Linked DNA regions of Homo sapiens: all the other regions are reported to be linked to region 2. Evidence: microRNA targets listed by miRTarBase, many of them from high-throughput screens and not tested one by one. Region 2 holds a microRNA gene; each other region holds the end of a gene's coding sequence.
The links. The annotated mature microRNA hsa-miR-342-3p reads UCUCACACAGAAAUCGCACCCGU and lies in region 2 at 2,489-2,511, opposite strand. An mRNA with a match to its seed (bases 2 to 7 or 8) in the 3' UTR can be bound and repressed. Matches are read on the target gene's strand: a 7mer-m8 pairs with bases 2 to 8, a 7mer-A1 pairs with bases 2 to 7 and ends in A, and an 8mer does both.

Region 1: miRTarBase lists GALNT10 as a target of hsa-miR-342-3p. Seed matches in the 3' UTR shown: 8mer at 4,224-4,231.
Region 3: miRTarBase lists KCNK1 as a target of hsa-miR-342-3p. The part of its 3' UTR that is shown has no 7-base or 8-base seed match.
Region 4: miRTarBase lists GART as a target of hsa-miR-342-3p. The part of its 3' UTR that is shown has no 7-base or 8-base seed match.
Region 5: miRTarBase lists RAD54L2 as a target of hsa-miR-342-3p. Seed matches in the 3' UTR shown: 8mer at 3,599-3,606 and 7mer-m8 at 769-775.

Annotation. Positions count from the first base shown.
Region 1 is chr5:154,416,318-154,421,420 of GRCh38, forward strand. GALNT10 (polypeptide N-acetylgalactosaminyltransferase 10) reads left to right here. Exons shown (of 12, transcript NM_198321.4): 12 at 497-4,667. The coding sequence ends at 655. The region is part of intron 2 of SAP30L-AS1 (SAP30L and GALNT10 antisense RNA 1); the gene reads right to left. Among named protein-coding and RNA genes, the nearest start is that of SAP30L-AS1, 27 kb to the right of the region's middle.
Region 2 is chr14:100,107,123-100,112,225 of GRCh38, reverse strand. It overlaps MIR342 (microRNA 342), which reads right to left and starts at 2,571; the gene lies at 2,473-2,571. The region is part of intron 3 of EVL (Enah/Vasp-like); the gene reads right to left. MIR151B (microRNA 151b) reads left to right here and starts at 2,712; the gene lies at 2,712-2,807.
Region 3 is chr1:233,671,039-233,676,141 of GRCh38, reverse strand. It overlaps KCNK1 (potassium two pore domain channel subfamily K member 1), which reads right to left. Exons shown (of 3, transcript NM_002245.4): 3 at 3,628-4,871. The coding sequence ends at 4,612. Among named protein-coding and RNA genes, the nearest start is that of MIR4427, 49 kb to the right of the region's middle.
Region 4 is chr21:33,499,329-33,504,431 of GRCh38, forward strand. GART (phosphoribosylglycinamide formyltransferase, phosphoribosylglycinamide synthetase, phosphoribosylaminoimidazole synthetase) reads right to left here. Exons shown (of 22, transcript NM_000819.5): 21 at 5,084-5,103; 22 at 4,605-4,987. The coding sequence ends at 4,796. Among named protein-coding and RNA genes, the nearest start is that of DNAJC28, 10 kb to the left of the region's middle.
Region 5 is chr3:51,662,737-51,667,819 of GRCh38, reverse strand. It overlaps RAD54L2 (RAD54 like 2), which reads right to left. Exons shown (of 23, transcript NM_015106.4): 23 at 1-5,083. The coding sequence ends at 4,400. Among named protein-coding and RNA genes, the nearest start is that of TEX264, 6.0 kb to the left of the region's middle. RefSeq lists an enhancer at 4,633-5,083.

The sequences.
Region 1 (5,103 bases), not on the chromosome of region 2:
AGCTACTCGGGAGGCCGAGGCAGGAGAAGCACTTGAACCTGAGAGGCAGAGGTTGCAGTGAGCCAAGATTGTGCCACTACACTCCAGCCTGGGTGACAGAGTGAGAACCTGTCTCAAAAAAATTAAAAAAATTAAAAAAATAAAAGATAAAAGGAAAGCACATACACACACACACACACACACACACACACACACACACACGATAAGGACCAGTGAGGTCTGACAGGAGGTGGGCAGTGTCTAGGTCCCAGGCCTGGAAGCTGCGTGCATCACTTCTGGCCACATCCCAGCGGGCAGAACCCAGTCCCACGGCAATACCAGCTGCAAGGGAGGCTGGGCAGCATCCGGCTTGTGAGCTCAGGAGGAAAACCAACAGGTGTATGAACAGCTAGTCAGTCAGTCACTTCCTCACTTTCTCATTGCTGGTATTGTTGCTGTGGTTTGACTGGCCACATGTCTCCAGTGCTGTCTGGCTTATTACCTCCATGTTTTGTAGGACAAGACCCTGTACCACCCTGTCAGTGGCAGCTGCATGGACTGCAGTGAAAGTGACCATAGGATCTTCATGAACACCTGCAACCCATCCTCTCTCACCCAGCAGTGGCTGTTTGAACACACCAACTCAACAGTCTTGGAAAAATTCAATAGGAACTGAGCCCTCATGTCCCCTTGGCAGGCCCCCCAGGGTCTGGCACTCACTGCAGACTTCCTCTTTCAAGGGAGGCAGGGCCCCTGTGGGCACTAGGTGTAAAAGGTGCTGGCCAAATGGTTCAGGGTGAAGAGGGCTCTTGATTCAGGGGCTGGGGTCTGCCTGGTCCTTGAGCCCCTGAGTTGTGGGGGTAGGGTGAAGAGCATATCCCACAAGAGGCCCCACAGGGAGCAGAGACTGCTTTAATCCCTGCTGACATCACGGAAAAGCAACAGAGCCTTTTCAACTTTGTCACTATGTCCCCTTGAACATTATGTGGGAGAACACCAAGGTAGCCTAGGCCACCCAAAAGTGAGTCCTGCGAGGTTGCCCAGCCCTCAGATGGCTCTCCTACATGATGGTGCTTTAGAAACAAAGGTAAAATTTGCCTGTTTGGGGCAGCTTTTAGTATCGATGCCACTCATCTGCAGCAGAAGAGAAAGAAGTCCTCTTGGGGCTTTTTAGTTTCTGCCGTCCTGGGGGGAACATTGCAGTTACTGCACAGCTTCTGTTCTCTGTCACAACCCCAGGTGATTTGGTCCGGTCAAAGGCCATACTTGGGGCCCTAAGAGTGTTCAGTATTGAATGCTGATCAGCTGCCAGGTGAGGAGTCAGAAGAGGGAGCCCCCCTAGACATTTCTTTGCAGCTATGGACATGCGGGATATCTCCCCCTGCTCTCTGGGTATTTGAAATGTCAATTTTAGCACTCTCCAGGCACAAGGACAGCCCAGCACCAGCTTTACAGGGCAGTGTTTCAGATGGCCCTGAGCCCACGGAAAAGGCCAGGTAGACCTCCAAACTAGAAATGCTGGCTGATTTGCCCTGATCCATGCTTCCATTTCCCTGTCTCTCTTCCCCAGGCAATTACTGGCCTCAAAAGAGGAACAGAGGTGCTGCGAGGTGCTCACCTCACAGAGTCTGGAGGCCTCCAGGATCAACTGTGGGCAAAGTGCCTGCCTCTGACCTCATCATGGTTCTAGTTCTCATACAGAACTCCAGAATTTTTAAAGAACTCTATAATTGGATTGCAAACTAGGATGCTACATAGGATTCTGGTATTCCACATCCAATATGGATTTCTAGAATGCTGTGATTAAAGGAGCCAGCCAGGTGTAATACAGTCAAGGCAGCCCCCAGCCTAGAGACAATCTGTGAAATCCAAAGTTGGTGGTGTTGGGAAAGCAGGGGGACATGTGTCCCTCAGCTCAGCAGAGGCTGTGGTACAACATGGTCCTTGGTGAAGACCTGCACCCCTGGAACCTCCCACCATCATCACAACTGTAGTCTCATTTGCAGTGGAGAAAAGAACCCGACGTCCCACAGCCAGATATACACCCAGCTCCATGCCAGCCCTTCATGTTTACCTTTTGCTTTGTTAATTACATGTCAGACTCCTAGAGGGCCTCCAGACTAATAGGAAGCATTTCTGTAACCAACCTGCCACCCACTGATTCAGAAATGGAAATCACATTCCACAATCTATGGCTTCCACCAGCTAGCCCAGGAAATACTTGAAATCAGCATTCCAATTAGTGTTGAGTCTCTTGATTGTGTCATTTACCAATTAAATAACTGAGACCTAAGTCTGGGAACAGAGCCACGAATCTGCCTTTGAGATGCTGGCAGATCTCAAGGCCATCAATTATTGGGGGAGGGAGGGACAAACACTCCCAATCATCCACCAGTCAGACTGAATGTGTAGCTGGCGAGGAATTACTTCCACTTCTGGCCCAGCACAAGCCCTGCTTTGGCCACCTGTCTGCAAGAGAGGCGGCCCCTGTGCTTGCAACGCTTACGTGTTGATCCCAGTGTCCTTTTCCAAATGAGTGCTGTAGCTTTAGAAGTGGCCCTCTATAGAAAGAAGTCAAAAGATGAGGCCCCTTCTAGAATCTAGGATAACAAGAGTGTTGACAGTTTGAGGAGTCGAATTGAGATTCATCATCAAAGAGCAATGCAGCGTCGTTAAAATAAAAACTGTGCCTTTTAAAAAGAAAAATGCAAATATAGAGCAAATCCCTAAACTTGAACCATTTCCTAGTGCCTTGCTAGACAAACATAAAGGGGCAGGGTTGTGGGGAGGGGAACGTTTTTGGTGGTGTGTGCAGTTCCTACTGGATGAGTGTGTGTTTCTTAATGTCTCATTTCAAGCAGGAGATGTTGGGTCTGGAGCAAGATCTGAGACTGAGATGTCCCCCAAGGGTGACAGGTCAGATTTATTTCAGTCAGTGCAAGTCACACTCCAAACTAAAGGCTGGGCAGTGCGTTTAGTCTGTGGCCTAGAAGACCTCATCAGCCCCCGAGAGGAGGCCTTGCATTACCTCACTGGGACCTGTTTGGGGGCCATCCCTGCGGTCCACCCTCTGAACCCCCAGCATGTTTGTCCTGTTTCTCACCATTGGGTTAAGGGGTGCCGAGCACTAGCTAGACTTCCACATAGTCCCACCCCAAGTGGGCGGCAGTGTTCCTGGCATGACCAGGATTCCTGTGAAAGCAGGAGCAGCAGCAAGCCGTCCCGGGCCTGCCTTTCCCATCCTTTGGTTCTCCTTTCCAGTCTGGGTTCACACCCTGAAAAGGGATGGGTGTGTCCTCTGAGCACTCTGGCATTTGTCATTGCTGAGCCCATATCAGTAGGTCCTGGGACTTGACAAAGTATGTGGGAGGGGAAGGAAGGACAGAACTTGACTGGCTCCATTTCATGGACCAACTGATCAATTGCCAGTACTAAGCCACTCATTGTTATGGCTTCCTTTTTGAAAACCACCTGTCTCAAGGATTCAGGTTTCTGCTCACATCCCCAGCTGATGCTCAATAAAACTCAGCCAGGAGCATATGGAGATGCTGACAGCCAGGTAATGGGTGAGACTGTGGGGTCCCTTTTCCTCTAAAGCCTTTACTCTGAGGATAAGGTCACAAAGTAGGGTGTGACTTGAAAGTATCGTGACCATGTGGCCCACCAGCAGCCTTTCCAAAGGGGAACTCCAGAGACATTTCATAATGCAAACAGCACTGTTGCTTTAAGAACAAGGCCTTTGGAGGTGGCTAAACTTGCACGCACGTGTGTGAAAAGCCATCCCATCTTCTGCCTCCAGTTGGAGCTTTCAGCTGTTAAAACAGTCAGAAACTATTGATTCTTCCCTTTAGGAAAAAATGCTCAGGCAGAACGGGGTACATCCACAGGAGGAATCGGACGAGAGGATGTGACATTCGGTCCAGGAGAGAAAGAGCAGTTTCTGTTAAAGATGTAACAAATGGATTTCCAAAGTCTACATGACATTCACTTTTCAAACTTCCCACCAGTTGAATTTCTTTTTTTCCTTAAGAAACAGGTGATGTCTTGGAAAACAGCTCCTTATGTCTCTCTGTGCATCTCCATTTTCCTAGTCTCTGGAGTCTCAAAAAGAGTGGCAAAGCACTTTACAGTAGTAACTGAGGAATCAGAGTCTCTGCTTCAGCGATATCTAGTTTGTACAGTTGGGTGATCTTTTGTAATTCCTAGGAGGTAATGCATTTTTAATGTTTTCTGAAGCTTTGTAAGTGTGAGAGAGGGACAAGAAGTGCAGTTCTGTTCTGGAATTCCTTATTGCTTTCAACGGACACTCTTTGTGAAAAATCCAAGTAATATTTTAGTTCAAACTTGATCTTGAGCCAAGGCCCACTGCCACCTCTGGGATGGGAGTCGGACCTACATACCAAGTGACAAGTTCACCTTAACATCTGCTTCCAGAATGGCTTTGATTCAGCCGTGCCAGGCAACAGAACAGGGTCAGACTCCTGCTCTGTTATTGGCTTGAAGACTAGGATCCCAAAGGGGTTGGAGGCAGGGAATATTTGAAAATTCAGACTGGAATTCCAGGCCAAAAGCTCAAGACCACCAGCCTCTCCTCCTGCCTGGAAAAATAAGCCTTTGTGAAAGACTGATTTACCATGTACAATTGTGATTGTGAACGTTGTTGAGTAAACCTCCAGACTTTCTCTAAAGTGGTCTCTGCCTTCTTCCTTCTCATGTGTCATTCTTCTTTTCATCATTCTTCACGTAGACCACCTACTTCGGACTCAGGCATTCTGCTGGGTACTAAAAACTCCCAACAGCCATCATTCTAGAGTGAAAGGCAGACCTAAAACAACTAAGATGATTTCAGATGCAAATAGGGCTATGAAGGGTATAAAGCAATGATATATTAGAGACTGGAGTGGGGGTCAACGTTAGCTAGAATGGTGAGAGCTGAAAGACATGAAGGAGGGTGAACCAAGATGATTTCCCGGAACAGAGTTCCAGGCAGAGGGAACAGCTAGTGCAAAGGCCCTGAGGTAAGTAGAAGTTTCTGTGTTGGAGGAGCAGAAGGAGGTTAGCTTGAAGAGTTACGTGGGGCAGCCCACAAAGGGTCACACCCAGGAGCGGAGGATCTCAGGAGGG
Region 2 (5,103 bases):
ACTGTATCTCAAGTTCAGCAGTTGGCTTTCTGAGTCTCCGGAGTTATCTACCAAAATATTTGAGCTGGCTTTTATCCTATATGAGCTGAAGCTGGCAGGAGGCTACTTGTAAAACTCCTTCCTTAGGAAAGAAATGATACACGCTACGCGAGGAAAAAAGAAAACAGCTGTGAATGAATTCTTCCCTCACTTTCGAAGATGTGGGTATGTGGCTAGAAAGATGGGGCAGGTTAAGTGTTTATAATAATCAACCTCTGACCAAGCCGGGTTATAGTTTAGAAAGCTGGGGGGCTGCCAGCTGAGCAGGGTCTTTTGAGAGGCAGTCTGGTCCACTGGGCAGAGACCTGGACTGGAAATCAGAACATCTGGGCTCTGGGCCTTAAGCTCTGCATTCACCAGAGTGGCCTGGGGCAAGTTTCTTAGCACTGTGAGCCTTTGTTTCTTCCTTCTTAAAATGGAGAAAGTAATTCCTGCTATCTCCCTGCAATCTCAGGGAGCCAAGATCCAGGCACAAGAGCATCCAGGAAGGGGTTTGTTCCTTTCTGTAAGGAGTATACGGCTTAGCTCTGGGTGGTGGCACACCAGAATGAAATGACTCTGGCTACGACTGAGGGGTGAGATCCCAGTATCTAGGGATTGGGCACTCCAGGAACAACTTGCATTCACTGTGCCATATGCTTACAAATCACAGTCCCATCTATTTTATCATTTGAGCCTCATGACAACTCTGTGAGGTGGTTGTCACACCCATTTTAAAGACAAGGAAACTGGCCGGGCACGGTGGCTCACACCTGTAATCCCAGCACTTTGGGAGGCCGAGGTGGGTGGATCACCAGAGGTCAGGAGTTCAAGACCAGCCTGGCCAACATGGTGAAACCCTGTCTCTACTAAAAATACAAAAATTAGCCGGGCGTGGTGGCGCATGCCTGTAGTCCCAGCTACTTGGGAGGCTGAGGCAGGAGAATCGCTTGAACCTGGGAGGCAGAGGTTGCAGTGAGCTGAGTTTGCACCACTGCACTCCGGCCTGGGCAACAAGAGCTAGACTCTATCACAAAAAAAAAAAAAAAAAAAAAAAAATGAGGACACTAAGGCTTAGAATGGTGAAATGGCTTGCTCAAGGTTTCACAGCTGCTCCATGTGACAGGGTGGAGCGGGTGCCTGGAGCTAGGGCATGGTACCCTGTCACCTGCCCCCACAATCTGTGCCACTTCTGTCAACCACTGTGCTGACCATGGCAGGCACACCTCAGCTGGCTGCTTCCTGAGCCCTACCAGGAGGCGTCAGGAAGGTGCTGGTGAGGCAAGGCTGGGGAATGAACCACCACCTATCTCAAACCCTGACTGGGCACATGGCGCCTGGGCTGTATCTACAGAAGACTAAAACTCCAAAGGAATCTCGCCATTAGCGTTAGGGAGATAATCCTGGGACTGGTGGAAGGAGGAGACCTCTCTTCTCTAGGATGTAAACTGCAATAAGCCAGCAGCTCTTTTGAGGAGGACAATGGCAGCAGCAGGATGCAGGTGGGATGCTCTGAAATTAGGGGCACCCGTGAGGCATGCACAGTACTACCAATGTGCCGAGGGAGACCCCCAGGGTCAGACAGAGCCTCTTCTCAGATCTTGATTTGAACTTCCAAACCACCAAGATCTGCTGGTGCCGCCGTCCTCCTCCTCATCAGATCCCCCCATTCACCCCCAGCCCTGCAGGGCCCAGGTTCAAGCCCCGCTTCCCTCAGAAAGTGTTCTCTGACCATCAGGATCCAAGAAGCCTGGCTTCCCTCTGTGTCCCAACGTGATGGCTGCTGGCACCACACAGGAGTTGATATTGTTAGTTACCTTTTTTTTTTTTTCCTGAGACAGCGTCTTGCTCTGTTGCCCAGGCTGAAGTGCAGTGGTGTAACCATGGCTCACTGCAGCCTCAGACTCCAGGGCTCAAGCAATTCTGCTACCCCAGCCTCCTGAGTAGCTGGGACCACAGGCACACGCCATCACACTTAGCTAATTTTTAATGCTTTTGTAGAGACAAGGGTCTTGCTATGTTGACCAGGCAGGTCTCGAACTCTCACACTGAAGTGATCCCCTGACCTCCTAAAGTGCTGGGATTACAGGCATGAGCCACTGTGCACGGCTGATATTGTTAGTTACCTTTGCAAATAATTTTTTTAAAAAGAGTAACTTCAAACTGTTATAGTAATTTAGAGGTGACAAAGAATGTTTACAAACATCATCTCATGGTACCCTCACAACAACCCTGTGAGGTGAGTCTGATTCAGCCATTTCACAGATGGCGAAACTGAGTCTTAGGTCAGTGACATGCCCAAGGGCACACTCCTGGCACAGCTGGTACTGGAACCAGATCCGAGTTCACGTCCGAAGTTCCTTCCACAGTATGCACACCTCGGGGCCACAGCAGCTGAAGGCCCTTCCATAGGCTGTGGCTGGAGAAGGCGTGTTCCTCTGTTTGGGGTGGTGATAAGTAGGCCAAGGTGACGGGTGCGATTTCTGTGTGAGACAATTCCATTAACCATGTCCCTCAATCACAGATAGCACCCCTCACCTTGAGCCCAGTTTCACAGGTTGGCCAGCAAGCGGTCTTGGTTCAGGAACTCCATCTTAGTCTGCAGAGAAGGATGCAATGGCAGGAAGTGCCAGGCTATGAGAGGCACACAATATGACATGGGCGCAAGCTGGGAGCTTGTTCAGTCACCAGACACCTCTGATGTGTCAGTCTCTCTTCAGGGCTCCCGAGACACAGAAACAGACACCTGCCCTCGAGGAGCTCACAGTCTAGACAAACAAACCCAGGGTCCAAACAAATGGGACACCAACAGTGTGCGAGGACTGGGAAGGGGTGCCTGAGGTCTTCTGGGGCACTGGGAAGGCTTCACAACAGCAGGGCAAAGGATGAGCAGAAGGTGACCAGGAGTATGGAGAGAACATGCATGAGGGCAGGGGCGGGGCCCCTTTAGACGCAGCCCAGGGAGGACAGACTGAAGAAGGACAAGAGAAGGTGGATGGGTTACAACCCCATTACAACACTTCAGGGGAGAGAGTGTCAGGGGAGAGACGGTGAGAATATGCAGTGCAGGTGGTGAAAATGGGAGCCAGTGAGTCAGAGGGACCAGGGGCTCAGGCCAATGCACAGCCTTCACTGCTGGACATGGTCCCACAGGACCTCGATGCTGAGCTGGGGCCTGGGCTGAGTCAGGAGACAGGGCTCCAGGCACGGCAGCCTCTGGGTCCTGGTGTGTTCCTGCAGCCAGGGATGGATATACTGAGAGCTTATAAGGCAGACGATGTGTGGGTTTTTGGGGTCCAGAGACAAAGAGGCCACTTTCTGAATTTCCAACCTGACTAGATTCATGCAGTGGGAATAGCAGGACAGGCCAAGTGGCAGCTGACTGTTAGGACAGAGGCAAAAATAAAGCCCCGTGGGAGTGCAGGAGGGAGTGCAAAGTCACAGGGAGCGGGGCGGCTGGGAAAGGCTCCATCTGTGGAGCCACATTCTGACAGGACGAGTGAGATTTTAGAAGTGTGGGGAAAAGTGAGAGGGGAAGAAGGGCCAGGGGCACAGGAGAGCCTGAGTAAGAGTGTGACTGACGGTGCGACTTGGGTAGCTGTTGGCATGGAGGCGTACAAAGGCCCTGCCTGATACAACATCTGGAGCCCTGGGGTGAGAACAGGGGTGGGTCAGCAAAGAGACATATCCGGCTTTCAGAAAGTGGCCGCCAGAGGGCAGCTGGGAGCAGGCAGGAGGCCAGGGGCTTGCCGTCCTGTTCCCCTCAGGCAGGGCCATGCTGGGCCTGCTTTCTCTCAGGTGGCACAAGGTGTCAAATGGCCTCGGCAGCCAGGGAGATGAAGACAGTCCAGTACTTCCTTCTCTTTAGGGGAGAAAGAGGTAATTTCCAATGGAAAGAGGTTTACAAGAAGCAAAATTCAGCCCCACCTCCAAGAGCTATGAGGTTTAACAACCTTCCACTCCCCTCCAAAGAGCACATGGAGCTGGGCCTGACTCTTCCCGGGAAGGTCTGCCTGTAAGTCCCTTTCCGGGGCTCTTTCTCAACACTGTGCTGAAGGTGCAGCCCCTGGGCCACTGGGCATCAATGAAGGACATAAGAGGTTGAAAAACTGGGAAAACATTTATTATCCAGCACCAGGAGCTTCATATTTTGAAATATACCAATGATGTTATTACACGCAAACCAAGTAGGAAAAGGACATACATTATGCTCCAAGAGCCAAAGAGAACAAGCACTTCATCCTGTGTTTTAATTCGCCCGGATTCCCACTAAGCTATGGGGTTTTCCTTTTTCTTTTCTTCAGAGTCCCACTGTATAAAGTCGATGAAGAACTACTCTGGTTGCATCAGGGCGAGGACCCTGGTATACCTTGGTGGACCCCTGGAACTCCTCAAAATATCCAGTTTGAAATCCACTGCATTCAACCCCCAAACTGCAAATAAACTTGCCTTTGACCACACATGCTTCTGTCCCACCCCCACCCAATCCAGCAGCAGGGGCACGTCTGACAAGATTTCATTAGTGAGAACCAAATGCGAAGAAACAGTCAAAATCCAGTTACTCAACCCTCTCCTCACCAGCACTGCTTTCCATGCACCTCGGCCCTCTTCCTAAAGCCTGGTCCTTTTCTGGTCCTTGGCCTGGAAAAAGTGATCTTTCATGAGGGAATGCTAGTGGAGGAACGTTGGGCGTGGCCATGGTTCTGCTCAGACTTGTCCTGTGGCCTGCACACATCCTCCCCCTCACTGGGTCTTGGTTTTGTCATCTGTAAATGTAAACCCAGTCTCATGACACCCAAGCCTCCTTCCCTGGCTCCCACTCACTGGCCCTACCCCGGCCTAGACTATCTGCCTTCTACACCAGCAGAGGCTTTGAGGGGGATTTTCTTTAAAATTCACTCCCACTATGTGGTCGAGTGCCATCAGCTTGGGGTCTTGCCTCAAGTGCCACCAGGGCCCTGCTCTCCTGGAGTAATGGGAGACGATGACACGATGACTCTAGTAAGTTCTGAGAGGACCTACAGTGGTTTAATGGAAAACTGCTGGATGTGGGGACAAAAAGAGGAGCAGCATGGGGCACGGCCC
Region 3 (5,103 bases), not on the chromosome of region 2:
TTAGTCAAAAATTGCTTTCAGTAAGACAGGTGGTCATGTCTCTAGAGGGTGTGACCATTTCTCCTTCTCAGTATAAAATAGAGTGGTCAGACTGTTCTACGCAGATGCTGAGTGCCACAGGATGCTAAGGGAATGGTGCAAGTGCTGTGGATGCTTTTACAGAAACTGAGAGACTGCTTACTATTTTAAGGCCGCCTAAGTGATTGCACAGTAATTATTGCCAAGTTGCATATGGAGACTTTTAAATTCTTTAATTGTGTCACCACAAATTGTAACGTCATTTATGTTGACACAAAATTTGGGTAGCAATTGTTAAAATAATTGAGAGGCCATTAGGCTGAGATGGCCTCAGAGCCCTTTGTTTCCTAGGTGAACAAATCCAGCCAAGCCCAATTCAACATAAACAGTTAAACAAACAAACAAAAAACCTTTACCAGTCAGAAACCACCAACAAGCCCAGGGATTTTCCAGTAGATCATATTCAATTAAGACAAATACGTAGCTGTAGCCAATCAAGCAATTGCTTTGCTTTGCTTGCATGTTCCGCCTATAAAACCCCACACCTCTTGCTGCTACAGTGAAATTCTCTGAACCTCTTCAGGCTTTGAATGCTGTCCAGTTCATGAATCCTTTAATTTCAAATAAACTCTGTTGAATTAATTTGTCTTAAATTTGCCTTTTAATACAACTCTCTCCTTTATTTTCTGTGGGTTGGAAAAACAGAGTAATAATTTTGTTAGAACTGTGTGCAAAGTAAGTATGTGTATGCCATGAGTGAAGCAAAGAGAGGGCTTACTTCTTTTTAAATGTGCTTTCCTACCAGGGCATGAAAAATACTTTAAAAAGCATTTTTATTTACTTCTGGGTCCTTTACTGCACTCCAAAAAGCTGAGTTTGCCTGACAGTACATATTAGATAAGAGAGATGTTAGGAAAATTGACTTCAGCAATTTTACATCTTGCCTCACACAAAAGGCTTTGATGCACCAAATTTCCACAATGTAAGACCCTTGCAAAATAAAAAAAAAAGTCACAATAGGAAAATCTCAAACATGCTACAGAGACAGATTTAAAAAGTTACTTGGCATAGTCAAATAAAGTAAATGGTATACTGTCTCATTTCAATTTCAACTATAAGTTGCTAAGAAACTTTTGTTTCTAAATTTGCCATATATACATTGCTGAAACTACATCCTAAAGGGACTGCCTTCCTAAATTGAGGATATCAGTATTTATCACAGCTCTTCCCAGCATGGAGGCTTTAACAACAACAAATACCAAAATAAATGTATTATGCCAGACAATCAGGAGGCTCTGCTCTCACTGAATTCTGAATAAGAGACAGATAATACTGTTCTAATTCTCCAACATGTGCTTCTGCCAATTTAAAACTTTTCTTCTTTGAAACAAATAGCTGTTTTTAGTAAGAGGTCAGTGTACTTTAAAGAGTTAAGAAGGTTTTGCATTGCCTATTTCCGTTATCTTGAGGTCTCCAGATTTGTAAATATCTCCTCATTCATTTTCCAAAAGGCCCATAAAGCTGGTTTGGAGAAAGTATGAGTGTGATTTTTTTCTCAGGTAAAAAAAAAAGTGACCCCATGTCAGTAATCTAAACATTACTCGATTTTTTTTGAAGTCAGACCAAATTTCTGTCTTCAGAAAATGTTTCTTTTTTCTCCCACTTGTCTTCTTCAACTTTTGAACAAATACTTTCAAAATATCTTGGTGGCATGACTACTATAGAAAGAAACCAGTGTCATAAATGGAGTGATCTGGGCTAAACTTTATCTGTCCTGGGAATCTTTTACATGATTCATTTAGAGACTACTCCCACCCCTTGGTCTCTCTTCCCTTGGATTTCTGAGAGCTTAGGAACTCCCACTCTGAGATACTCTGTGTTCTCTCCTCACGTGGAGTGTATCTGCTACTTTGAAATCAACATCCCTACCAGACACGTGTCACATTTAAGTTCACGCACAGGACCATGTCCTGGAATGATAAGGCTTTCTGCTGCTGTTCTACCCTGAGGGCATTCCGCAGGCATCTTAGGAACTCAATCTTGAAGGCTCAAGCTAAGCAAGTGAGTTCAGCTTGTACTCATCACCCAGAATTCTCTAGTAGTCACTTTTACCTCCAACTTCCCACTCTCTCGCCTCCAACTAAAGGGTTCCCAAGGTCAGTTCTGGCTTAGCTACACTGTTCATCTTCCACCTCCTTGTCATGCCTGCAGCAAGCCGAATTTCTGTTCTCTGAGAGGCTGACCCAGAGCTCCTCCTGGGTGACCAAGCTCGCTTCTCCCTGGGGACCAAAGGGCAGCATCATCGGCCAAAGACAAAAAGAAACCCTGGGGAAGACATCCTCCCTTACTTTCCTGCCTGCTAGGGTGGGGGCCGAGGCAAAACTTGCTCCTACTTTTCTACTTTGCCCTTCACATTAACAACAATCTGAAGGGCATTAAGGTTTAATGTGTTCTCTGCGGATTCAAACGAGTTCCTAAAATTAAGTACTACACTCTATTACTTATTAATCACATCTGATTCAGAAGTTTTTCTTCACGTACTTCCTCATTTTCTGGACTTTGAACTTCCCTCTCATGTTAGAGCCAAGCAGCTGTAGCAAACTAGCCATTATTTTTTCCTGCATTGCATAAAATAGAATAACACTCTCCAAGTGTAATCCAGCTTCTGTGATTTATATTGATGAGCATCTCAGGACTCTGCTCCACACCAAGGCTTGTGACCATCGGAAATGTTGCAGATCCAGTTATGGCAGGATGCATGCCTCTATTCTCCAAGGATTCTCTATTCTACCCTTAACCAATGATCTGGCCTCATGACAGCAGTCTTCTATTGCAGGGACATGGTCAGCAGGGAGGAAATATGCTTACGGGGCAGCACACTTGGATTCCTCTAAAAATCATATACTATCCCTCTAAAATCACCTATATTTTTCCATCTCCCTGTCCTCTAATCAGTAAGATATTTAAGCATGTGAACCCCTATTGAGATATTGGACAATCACTCTGTAATTCTTTCTGTGTGCATGGTAGTTAATAAATGTGTATGCCTTTTCTCATTAATCTGCCTTTTTGTGAGTTGATTTTTCAGCAAATCTTCCGAAGGGTAAGGGGATGCTTTCCCTTTGCCCTGCAGTTGGTAATAATTTACTCATGGCAGCACATGGTACAGAAGGTAGAAGGTTACTGAGCGAGTGACCCACTGTCAGGAGACTGGCCCGCGATCAAAGTGCTTGGCTGGCTCATCAGAGGGCGCTGATTTTGCACTGATTTTTACCAGCCCCTCAACCACCAACTCCTGGGCAGCCACCCATGGGAGGTAAGGCTCCATTGCGGGGGTCAGTGGACATTCATTATCACACAGGGGCTTTCTCATTTTCTTTTCTAAAATCCTTAATATAATAGTATCCTGTGTACGTCATCTAAATGTGACCTTTATGTTTTCTATGAAGGACTATATATATATATATACGTATATATATATATATATATACACACATATATATATATATACATATGTATATATATACATACATATATATATGTATATACACACACATATGTATATATATTCTACATAGAGGCACACTTCTGATATATGAAAGCATAAGATTACAACCAGCTGTGATTTTTATTTATTTTAGCTTCTAAATTTAAAATTCTCAGATTAATGTAACATAATCTGTTCATTTAGGGATTCGTGTTTAAGTTCTATGCTTTAGTGCTAGGTGGCTGCAAATCACAATGTACTTTCAAAACAAAGTATCTTAACCTTTTAATAAATCCTTTTCATAACCTGTTCAATTCAAAAAAATGTTTATAAACATGTTAGACATCTGACACCATTCTATCGCAAGAGGGTAGAAACATTTATTGCAGCAGAATACTATGGTTATTCACTCTCAAGTTTATTATTCCCCTTATTTTATTGTAGCAACTCTGGATTCTTTAGTATAAAGAGAAATCAAAAGAAACAAAATATCTATAGTCTTAGTTTCAGAACTACACTAGGATCTGGTGACCTAAACCATATGTACAGAATATAAACATATTTATACTTTATATGTACATAGTTAATGGTTACCTATGCATTATAAATAGTAAGTTTAACTTAGATTCTACAAAAATAATCATTTTGGGTGGGTACATGCAAACCAGTACACATAAACCTATTTATAAAACACATCTCTATGCTTTTTTTTTTTGCTTCTAAATATAAATTTTGCTATTTAGCCATCAGCTAAATGATCTAAATGCAAACCCCAAAGTTTCCAGTTAAAAGTATAAAATCTGCTTCTAACCACAGCAGCATACTGCTTCAAGTATTCTCCTCCTATGTAAGGTCGAGATAATTTTGTCACATATGAATTTTAGGTGGACATCTCATTTCCTCACATATTAGACATCCTGCTGGGGTCACAGCTTCTTTGTTCCATTTGTCTTTTTTTGTTGTTTTTTAATAAGACATTGCAAACAGTAGCTATTTCTTAAAGTGACATAATTTTCGCTTTTGCATTCTGATAAAAATGAACATACTTAAGCCTCTTCCTTGCACCCTGACCCTGGTGCTCTAGCATAATGCAACAAATCCTACGCTCAATGGTTTGCAGGGCCATCCACGCAGGCAGATGACTGGGTGGCCACAAAAGGCTCATTTTGCTTCTGGTCCTCTTTCATGCCAGCTGCCTGGTCTGTGATCGAGGAGAAGGACAGTTGGTCATGCTCTATGATGTGCACCTGATCCTCGTCCTTGTCCTTCTTCACATAGAACATTTTTCTGAATTTTTTCAGCTCATGGAGTTCACAGAAGGTTTCCAGAACTACCAACATGGCAATAAGGCCAAGTAGCAGGTAACCTGTGTGAGAAACAGGACACTGTCTTAGTGTGATCTCAACATGGATAAATCAAGTAGCGAGTGATTTACCTCCCCACCTCATGCCAACACAGTGTTTGTTAAGGAATAAACTCATTGCCAGTTTCTTAATTTTTAGAAGTGTTTTTAAGTTCATGGTTCAAAGAGGAACTACCCATTATTAAAGAGTGAAAGACAATGAAGAATGATTTAACCTCCTATGAACTTGGATTAG
Region 4 (5,103 bases), not on the chromosome of region 2:
AAATACCTCTATCCACCTTAGGCAACAACTAATCTATTTTCTGTCTTCTGGATTTGCCTATTCTGGACATTTCCTTATTAAATGTTATTCATTATTATTAGGATTTTTTTTTTTTTTTTTTTGAGACAGAGTCTTGCTCTGCCACTCAGGCTGAAGTGCAATGGTGCCATCTCGTCTCACTGCAACCTCCACCTCCCAGGTTCCAACGATTCTCCTGCTTCACTCTCCCAAGTAGCTGGGATTAGAGGCACCTGCCACCATGCCCAGCTAATTTTTGTATTTTTAATAGAGACGGGATTTCACCATTTTGGCCAGGCAGGTCTTGAACTCCTGACCTCAAGTGATCCGCCTGCCTCGACCTCCCAAAGTGCTGAGATTACAGGCGTGAGCCACCGTGCTCGGCCTCAGTTATTATTATTAGTTTTAGAGACAGGGTCTCACTTTGTTGCCCAGGCTGGAGTGTAGTGGCATGATCTCAGCTCGATTGCACTCAACCTCCTAGGCTCAAGTGATCCTCCCACCTCAGCCTCCCAAGTAGCTGGGACTACATGTGTGTGCCACCACACCTGGCTAATTTTTTTTTTTTTTTTTGAGACGAAGTTCCCCTCTGTCGCCCAGGCTGGAGTGCAGTGGCGTGATCTCGGCTCACTGCAACCTCCGCCTCCAGGGCTCAAGCAGTCCTCCTGCAGGCTTCAGCCTCCCGAGGAGCTGGGACTACAGGCACATGCTCCATGCCTGGCTAATTTTTGTATTTTTAGTAGAGATGGGGTTTCAGCATGTTGGCCAGGCTGGTCTCAAACTCCTGACCTCAAGTGGTCCACCCACCTCGGCCTCCCAAAGTGTTGGGATTACAGGCGTGAGCCACCGCGCCCGGCCCTTTCTTTCTTCTACTTCTTATTATTTTTGAGACAAGGTCTCACTCCGTCACCCAGGCTGGAGTGCAGTGGTGTAATCCCAGCTCAATGCAACCTCCACCTTCCAGGTTCAAGTGGTTCTCCTGCTTCAGCTTCCAGAGTAGCTGGGATTACGGGCAAGGGCCACCATGCCCGGCTAATTTTTGTATTTTTAGTAGAGATGGCATTTCACCATGTTGGCCTGGCAGGTCTCGAACTCCTGACCTCAAGTGACCCCCCTGCCTCATCCTCCCAAAGTGCTGGAATATAGGCCTGAGCCACCGCACATAGCCACACCTGGCTAATTTTTATATTTTATTCTTTGTAGAAATGGTTTCTTGCTATGTTGCCTAAGCTGGTCTGGAACTCCTGGACTCAAGCAATCTTCCCTCCTCGGCCTCCCAAAGTGCTGGGATTACAGGTGTATGGTACTGCACCCAGCCTGGACATTTCATATAAATAGAACTGTATAATATGTGGTCTTTTTTTTTTGAGACAGAGTCTCACTCTGTCACCAGGCTGGAGTGCAGTGGCACGATCTTGGCTCACTGCCACCTCCGCCTCCTAGGTTCAAGCAATTCTCCTGCCTCAGCCTCCTGAGTAGTTGGGACTACAGGCGCGCACCACCACGCCCAGCTTATTTTTTATTTTTATTTTTTCTTCTTTTTTCTTTTTTGAGACGGAGTCTCGCTCTGTCACCCAGGCTGGAGTGCAGTGATGCGATCTTGGCTCACTGCAAACTCTGCCTCCCGGGTTCACGCCATTCTCCTGCCTCAGCCTCCCGAGTAGCTGGGACTACAGGCGCCCGCCACCACGCCTGGCTAATTTTTTGTACTTTTTTAGTAGAGACGGGGTTTCACCATGTTGCCATGAAACATTTAATAAGGAAATCTCGATCTCCTGACCACGTGATCCGCCCGCCTCGGCCTCCCAAAGTGCTGGGATTACAGGCGTGAGCCACCAGCACCCAACCGCTTATTTTTATTTTTAGTAGAAATGGGGTCTCACCATGTTGGCCAGGATGGTCTCGATCTCATGACCTGGTTATCTGCCTGCCTCAGCCTCCCAAAGTGCTAGGATTACAGGCATGAGCCACCGAGACCAGCCAGTCTTTTTTTTTGGTGTTGTTGTTGTTGTTGAGAAAACGTCTTACTCAGGCTGGAGTACAGTTGTGCGATCACAGCTCACTGAAACTTCGACCTCCTGAGCTCAAGGAATCCTCCTACCTCAGCCTCCCAAGTAGCTGGGACTACAGGTGTGTGCCACCATGCCTAATTTTTGTTTTATTTGTAGTGATGGGGGTCTCACTATGTTGTCCAGGCTGGTCTTGAACTCCTGGGCTCAACTGATCCTCCTACCTGGGCCCCCCGTGCTGGAATTACAGGTGTGAGCCACCATGCCTGGCCGCATGTGGTCATTTATGACTGAATTCTTTTTTTTTTTTTTTTTTGAGACGGAGTCTCGCTCTATTGGCAGGCTGGAGTGCAGGGGCGTTAGCTCACTGCAACCTCCGCCTCCCGGATTCAAGCAATTCTCCTGCCTCAACCTCCCTAGTAGCTAGGACTACAGGTGCACACCACCACGCCCAGCTAATTTCTGTATTTTTATTAGAGACAGGGTTCCACCATGTTGGCCAGGATGGTCTTGATCTCTTGACCTCGTGATCCGCCTGCCTCGGCCTCCCAAAGTGCTGGGATTACAGAGCTGAGCCACTGCACCTGGCCCTGAATTCTTTCACTTAGCATAATACTTCAAGGTTCACCCACACTGTAGCATGTGTTAGTATTTCATTCCTTTTTATAATTGAATAGTATTCAATGTATGGATATATTTATCCATATATTTATCAGTTCATTTGCTGATGAACATTTGCATTGTCTCCACTTATGAATCAGTTTTTAACTGTTAATTAACATTTGGCTCCAGATAAAGGAAAATGATCTAACACTGTGGTAAATGTAAAATTTACATGGCTTGTGAAAGAATGGCTGTCAGAGATGGTCTCTTTTAAACAGTGGAGGAGGCAAATGTATGCATTAGAATTGCTGAAAAACACTTTGGGAGGTAAAGACAATTTTGGTTTTAAAAAGGCCAAAGGAGGGCCGGGTGCGGTGGCTCACGCCTGTAATCCCAGCACTATGAGGGCCAAAGCAGGCAGATCAAATGAAGTCAGGAGTTGGAAACCAGCCTGGCCAGCATGGTGAAACCCCGTCTCTACCACAAATACAAAATGAGCCGGGTGTCGTAGTGCATGCCTGTAATCCTAGCTACTCAGGAGGCTGAGGCAGGAGAATCACTTGAACCCGGGAGGCAGAGGTTGCAGTGAGCTGAGATCTTGCCACTGCACCCCAGCCTGGGTGACTGAGTGAGACTGTCTCATCAAAACAACTATATGAATGATATTTGCCTACTTTAATTGACAAGGGAATAGAGAGACACAGTGGATGAGAAATGTGCCTAAAGTTTTATGCTTGAATCTAAAAGCCACCAACTCTCCCCCTAATCCTCTAGTGACTTGCAGAGAAGTATGGATCTTTATAAACCACAGGATAATTAAACTTTACTGAAGCTAAAATCTGGGGATTACAGAAACTGTCAATAATTAGAGGAACGTTTAATGATACTTCAAAGCATAAAGGATACTATCCTTCAGAAATGGGAGCTATCCAGAAATCTTAACACACCAGATTATGATCACGATGGTCGGAAAAGTCTCAAATCAGCTATACAATATAAGGAAGAGATACTGCCTTGTTAGACTTGGGGAAGAGATAGTCACTTGACACTGATCAGAAGGAGGCTGGGCAACTTTTACACACCGGAATCTATAACCAAGATTATAAACGGAACCCAGGTGATACACTTGGGTTTGTCCTCATGTTTCTTTTCCTCATTTTAACTCAGATACATCCAGCAGTCATGGCTTCAAAAGCATATGATCAAAGATCAGAAAACCCATAACTTATTTATTTATTTATTTATTTATTTATTTATTTATTGAGATGGAGTCTCGCTCTGTCGCCCGGGCTGGAGTGCGGTGGCATGATCTCAGCTCACTGCAAGCTCTGCCTCCCGGGTTCACGCCATTCTCCTGCCTCAGCCTCCCAAGTAGCTGGGACCACAGGCGCCCGCCACCACACCCAGGATAATTTTTTTTTTTTTTTTTTTTTGTATTTTTAGTAGAGACGGGGTTTCACCGTGTTAGCCAGGATGGTCTCGATCTCCTGACCTCGTGATCTGCCCGCCTCAGCCTCCCAAAGTACTGGGATTACAGGTGTGAGCCACCGCACCCAGCCCATTATTATTTTTTGAGACAAGTCTCGCTCTGTTGCCCAGGCTGGAGTGCAGTGGCATGATCTTGGCTCACTGCAACCTCCACTTCCTGGGTTCAAGCGATTCTCCTGCCTCAGCCACCCGAGTAGCTGGGATTACAGGTGCGTACCACCACACCCAGCTAACTATTTTTTGTATTTTTAGTAGAGATGGGATTTCACTGTGTTAGCCAGGATAGTCTCGATCTCCTGACCTCATGATCCGCCTGCCTCGGCCTCCCAAAGTGCTGGGATTACAGGCGTGAGCCACTGTGCCCAGCTGAAAACATAAAACTTATAAACATGGAGGTGATTCATCATGTTGTCAGGCAATACCAAAAAAAAAAAGAGGGGGTGACGGTTAGAAAAAGAGCATAAAAAAGACCAAGAAAACTGTATGTCTCAGATATGCTGCACTAACTAGTCTTGTTTTTAGTGAGTCTCTATTTATTAAAAAAATAGATGAAGTAAGGGTGAGGTCTTTTTTGTCTTTTAGCAGTTTTTCTTTTGGGCCAAGTCCATGATAAAAAACCACCATGCAAACAGCAAATAATTCTTTCTAAACTGGCCCCATTTCTGAATTAAAAGGCTTCATTCCTCTTTAACCCAACAGATCTTGCCATTTTCTCCAAGCTGTACAGTTCCACTGGCCACCAGCTGAAGGGCTGCAGGAAATATTTTATGTTCTGCTAATTTTACTCTTTCAGAAAGAGTTGCGACAGTATCACCCCTCTTCACGGGAACAGCTTCTTGCAAAATAATCTGTCCAGCATCCACATCTTCCTGGAAAAGTAAGCAAAAGTTTTGAACATTACCTTCTAGCCAGTGTCATTTACATCTGACTACTAATATTATGTTGGTAGAAAAAGACATACTCACAGCTACAAAGTGTACAGTGC
Region 5 (5,083 bases), not on the chromosome of region 2:
CTGCTCAAGAAGTTCATTGTTATAAGACTCAGGTATTCATAAAAGGCCTAGGGCTAAGCTAGTAGCACAGAAAAGCCGTTAAGGGGATCACAGCAGAATACACAGGGCAGAAGAGAAGAGTTGGCAGCAGGGGAACGGAGTCTCAAGGTGACCAATAGAGAGCACAACATTCTCAAATAGTCCTTGAGGTGCTGATTCCTGGGAGTAGTCAGCAGAGGGCCAGAACATCTCCCAGGGGTCCTTTTGGGGAAGGATGACTTCACTTAGTTTTAGGGGTGAAGAGCCACTGAGCTGGGTGCACAGAAGGCCATGGCTCAGAAGGGAAAGACTGATCTGAGAAATCAAAAGGAAGTGGGGGCCAGGAGCAGTGGCTCACGCCTGTAATCCCATCACTGGGAGGCCGAGGAGGGTGGATCACTTGAGGTCAGGAGTTCAAGGCCAGCCTGGCCAACGTGGTGAAACCCCGTCTCTACTAAAAAATATACAAATTAGCTGGGCATGGTGGTGTGCACCTGTAATCCCAGCTACTTGGGAGGCTGAGGCAGGAGGATCGCTTGAAACCGGGAGTGGAGGTTGCACGGAGCCAAGATCACACCATTGCACTCAAGCCTGGGTGACAGAGCAAGACTCTGTCTCAAAAAAAAAAAAAAGGAAGTGGGAAGCAGAAGGTAATATCCAGAACACTAGTAACAAGGAATGTAAAGCCCCCAGAAGACCTTCCCCATGGGATGAGGACTCAATTTCAGAGCAATGCCAGGTTTGAATAGACTCACACAGAGGGCCCTTCTCTGCTGACAACTTTGGGAGTGATGGTCCTACCCAGGCCACTTAAGTTTGGCTAAGTGTTTCAACCAATCTGCAAAACTGTACCCCAGCACTTTGCTTCCTGCTCCTGAATTGAGAAATTTCATATTTAGTTGTGAATCACAAGCATATAGAGACTCCACACACTAATTCCTAGGGAAGAGAGCTCCAAGGATCACAAGCATATAGAGACTCCACACACTAATTCCTAGGGAAGAGAGCTCCAAGGACCAGACAGAATTATCCTTAAATCAGGAGATGATGAGATAGATGCCTAAAAAGCATAACTCAAAGGGGTGTGGACTTCATAGATATCCAATCTAAAGAAAATGATATGACCCAACATGGTTCACTTCCTTTCTTAAATAGCTACTTTGTCCCTGTTCAATTTTTATCTACAAATATATTAAGAAAAGGAAATCAAGCATCACTATAAATGGTAAACCTCAATCATTAAGTAGTACTGTGTTCCCCAGGCTGAGAACTTGGCTAAACCAGATGAATGGGGCTTGAGAGGCCCTTGAAAACATTCCATGGAAGACAATGGTAAGGGAAAACGCCTAGGCCTGATTTTCTGCCCTCCCTCTTATCACCAGCCACCCTGCCCCCCTCAGGCCTGGATAATGGGTGGAAGACACCACCAAGTGTTTATGATCAAAGAAACTATAAAACATGGTTCTTAGGCTCTGAGATACTTCCTGCTTCCCTCACAAACATGCTTATGTTTGGTGTGCATGCACATTTGCCTATCAGCACATATAAAGAGACAGTGGAAAAGTCAGAAGTGTTTTCAGGTTATTTTCTTTAAAAAAAAAAAAAAAAAAAAAAAAAAAAAAAAAAAGCAAAAACCATGGACCTGGTAGCACTCCAATTTCCCATGATCCCACCCCCAACCCCTCTACACAATAGAAACTGCACATATAAAAGAAAGCCTTCTCTAGTCAGGTCAGCCTCCCAGAATGATGGCCTCTGCTGAGTAGAAGCAAGACCCAGTCCCTGGAACACTGGATAGACAGTAGGCATGTGCTGCCTCTCAGAATACCCATTTACTTTCTGTCAACTTCAAAAGCCAAGCCCATCCCTCCAGGGAATGGTTTCAGTTCCCGGCTGGGAAGGTTTCCGGATTCTTGGAGGCTAGTACAGTGATTTCCTAGAAGTGAACACAGAAATACTACCCCCTTCTCCCGACAACACACACACACAGACATACACATGCACACATGCATCTCTGGGATCCCAGTGCTCCAGGGCCTGAGAGGCATCAGTGTAACCCAGGTTCTGAGTGTGTCCCATAAATTGGAGATTCAGTCTAGCTCACTCCTACTGCACCAGCCTCAACCTGAGAGCTCACTCCAACTGAGTCCCTTCACCATCCATTCTTGGGATGCATCTGAAAGAGAAAGCACTGGTTGGAACTGCTATTTTTAAATTATTAAAATAATTTGCATAGCTAAATTGTAGATCTAAGGCTTCCATGAGTAGAAGAGTTAAGTGTCTGGCAGGGTGCTTATGAAAACACAAAGCTTCTTAAGTTCCACTTTTGGTGTTATTGGACAGCAGACAAACACACATATACACATGCACCCCATCCATCATCTCCTTGTCTCTTCTCTGAGGACAATACCCCAGAGTCTGCTAAGGCCCTCCAAAGATGGAAATGGGCTGGTCAGAAGAGCTGTAGGAGCTACTACTGGGATGACCTGACTAAGCTGCCTTCTGGGCTGGGAAGAGGCAGGTACACCACCTGCCCAGTAAGGAGGGAGCCATGGGTAAGTGGTAAAGCTCTAAAGCCAAAGTTTGTTCATCATAAAGAACTGTCTGGCAAAGTGTTGGGGTGGGGGATACAGAGGGGGCGGGGACACCAGTAGGAAGACAGCCAGTGTTTATGCTTAAGGACTAGACGACCCTCCCCTGGCAATGGCAATAAGGGGAGACCCAGAATGACTGGTGTGTTCTTTTAAGATAAAACCCAGACTTAGGGCTCCTACAGAGAAAGGGCTCCTCCATGTTCCTTCAAAGATGGAGGCAGCAGACACCAGGCCTACATGGACCACCTGAAGATATTTTCGAACATGAAATCAACAGTCCCTCAACCCAGCAACCGCCTATCCACAGCTTCACTATTCAGCATAGAGAGCCAACATCTAACATCATCCCAGGAGGACACAGCTCCAAATCTGGGGTCTCTTACTTCCCAATTGCAAACTCCATGATCACAACTTTCGATTTCTGTGGAATGAGTCCCACCCTCCACTAACTATCCAGTCTCAGGATTCCCTGATCTTCCTGAAAAGCCATCTCTCAAAAATATAGTTGTTTAATCCAAACCTTGGTCAAACCTAACTCTTCCCCTGGTCAATTTACCATCCATCCAGGATTGTTTTTCACCAGTGGCTATAGGGTCTGGGATATCTTAAAACTTCCCTTTCTATCACCTACCCTCCTTACCCCTAACCTCCCCCCACCCCCAAATAAACAAGACACATGAAAAGTCCAAGTAATAAATAATTGCCCATAAGAAATAAATTAACATGGAGCTCTCTAAAGGGGAAGGAAAGGAACAGAAAAGACTACCAGGATAGGCAGCTGGGGGCTCAGTTCTACCCTGGTGAAAAATGTATTTTCCAGCCACAACTCTGCGACCTTTCATTCACGTACTGCAGTGCTTCTCCCTCCCAGCCTCTGCACACAGACAACCTTCCAAGCTGGAAAGGGAGAGCTGCTCAGAGATAGCCACCGGGGTTAAGAGACATAGATTGGTAATGCCCATTTTCTCTCATGAATTTCCCCAAATTCTCACACAAATGTGGCTCTGAATACCAGGGACTTGAGTTAGCTGGGCCTTCTCTTCACCCATCCCGAAGGAAACTTGTTATTTCCATGGCTCTTCTGGGCTCACCCTGATGTTCACACTAGGTGCCATGAACCACCAAACTGACTTCCATTTAAAGAAAGATAAATTCATTTTTCAGTTTCCCTCTTAGTTCTTCCCTCCCTCCCCTCCCACCTTCACCCCTGCTCTGTTCCATACATACACATACAAAATAAACATACACACACACACTCACAAACACACATACCTGGTCAGCTTCCTTCCCACCCCCTAAAAAGACCCCACTTCACATGGGATCACAGTCTGCTCCCCCTACCCACCCTCCTTCTCTCACTCATTCTCCCTTCCTTCACTCCCCTCCCCAGGCCAAGCTAAGTCACCTAGTAAGGCAGCTCTCTTGGGAAAGAATGTTCCCAAAGACAGAAATGGGATGTGCGCTTCTACACTCAGATGGGCGAGCAAGCAAGCAGACAGCATAAGCAAGGCAGGAAGGAAAAGAGGCTGCACTGCCCCTCCATCCCTGTTTTGGGTCCCTGATTTCCCGCTATTGCTGCTGTGTTGGACTTTTTTTTTTTTTTTTTTTTTTTTGCCTCTTTTGTTAAACAGCAACAGAGCTCTGCCACTTTGGCCAACCACCCTCCTTTGTCCTCTTCCTTTTCCCTCCTGCCAAGTGTCCTATTCTCAAAAGGTCTAAATCACTGCCTTTCAGCTTGGTGGGCAACCTGCTGGGGGCCCCAAGTGAGGTGGGGAGGGGCTCCCTAGCTATTTCCCAGTGACCTCTATCACATCATCGTCTTTATCCTCATCATCATTGGAGCTGAACCCAACCTCGGCAACCTCATGAGAGTCAAATGGAGGCACCTGGGACCGTAGGAGGCCACCAGCTGGGTAGCCTGCATGTGGGGACATGTAGCCTGGATAGATAGACATGCCCCGCGAAAGGTTGCTGGGCAAGACAGGGGAAGGAAAAGGCGCAAACATCCTCGGCTCGGACAGGAGTGGCTGTGAGAATGGGAGTGAATAGCTGGGTAGTATCCCTGGCACAGAAGGGTTGAGCATGAAGGAGGGGTTGCTGGCAGTGACTGAGGTAGCCGTGGAAGAGGAACTGACGGGGCCTGCTGGCACCAGAGGGTCAGTAGTCACTGGAAACACCAGGCGGGCATCTGCCAGCAAATTGGACAGCTGGTAGTAGGAGGGGGTACTGCCCATAAACAGGGAGTTCTCCCCAGCCTGGGAGGTGAAGGGGGTGGTGAGGTTATGGTTTAAGGAGACGGGTGGCATGGCAAACCCGCCAGAGACTGGATACCCGTGTTCATACGGCTGCACGGGGGCTGGCAGATGACCCTTCCTGGACCGCCGGCGGGATGACTCCTGGGCAGCAGGTGGTGTGGCCAACTTTCGCTTGTGGCCCCTTAAGTCCAGCACTGGGTGCCTGTCACCACAGGG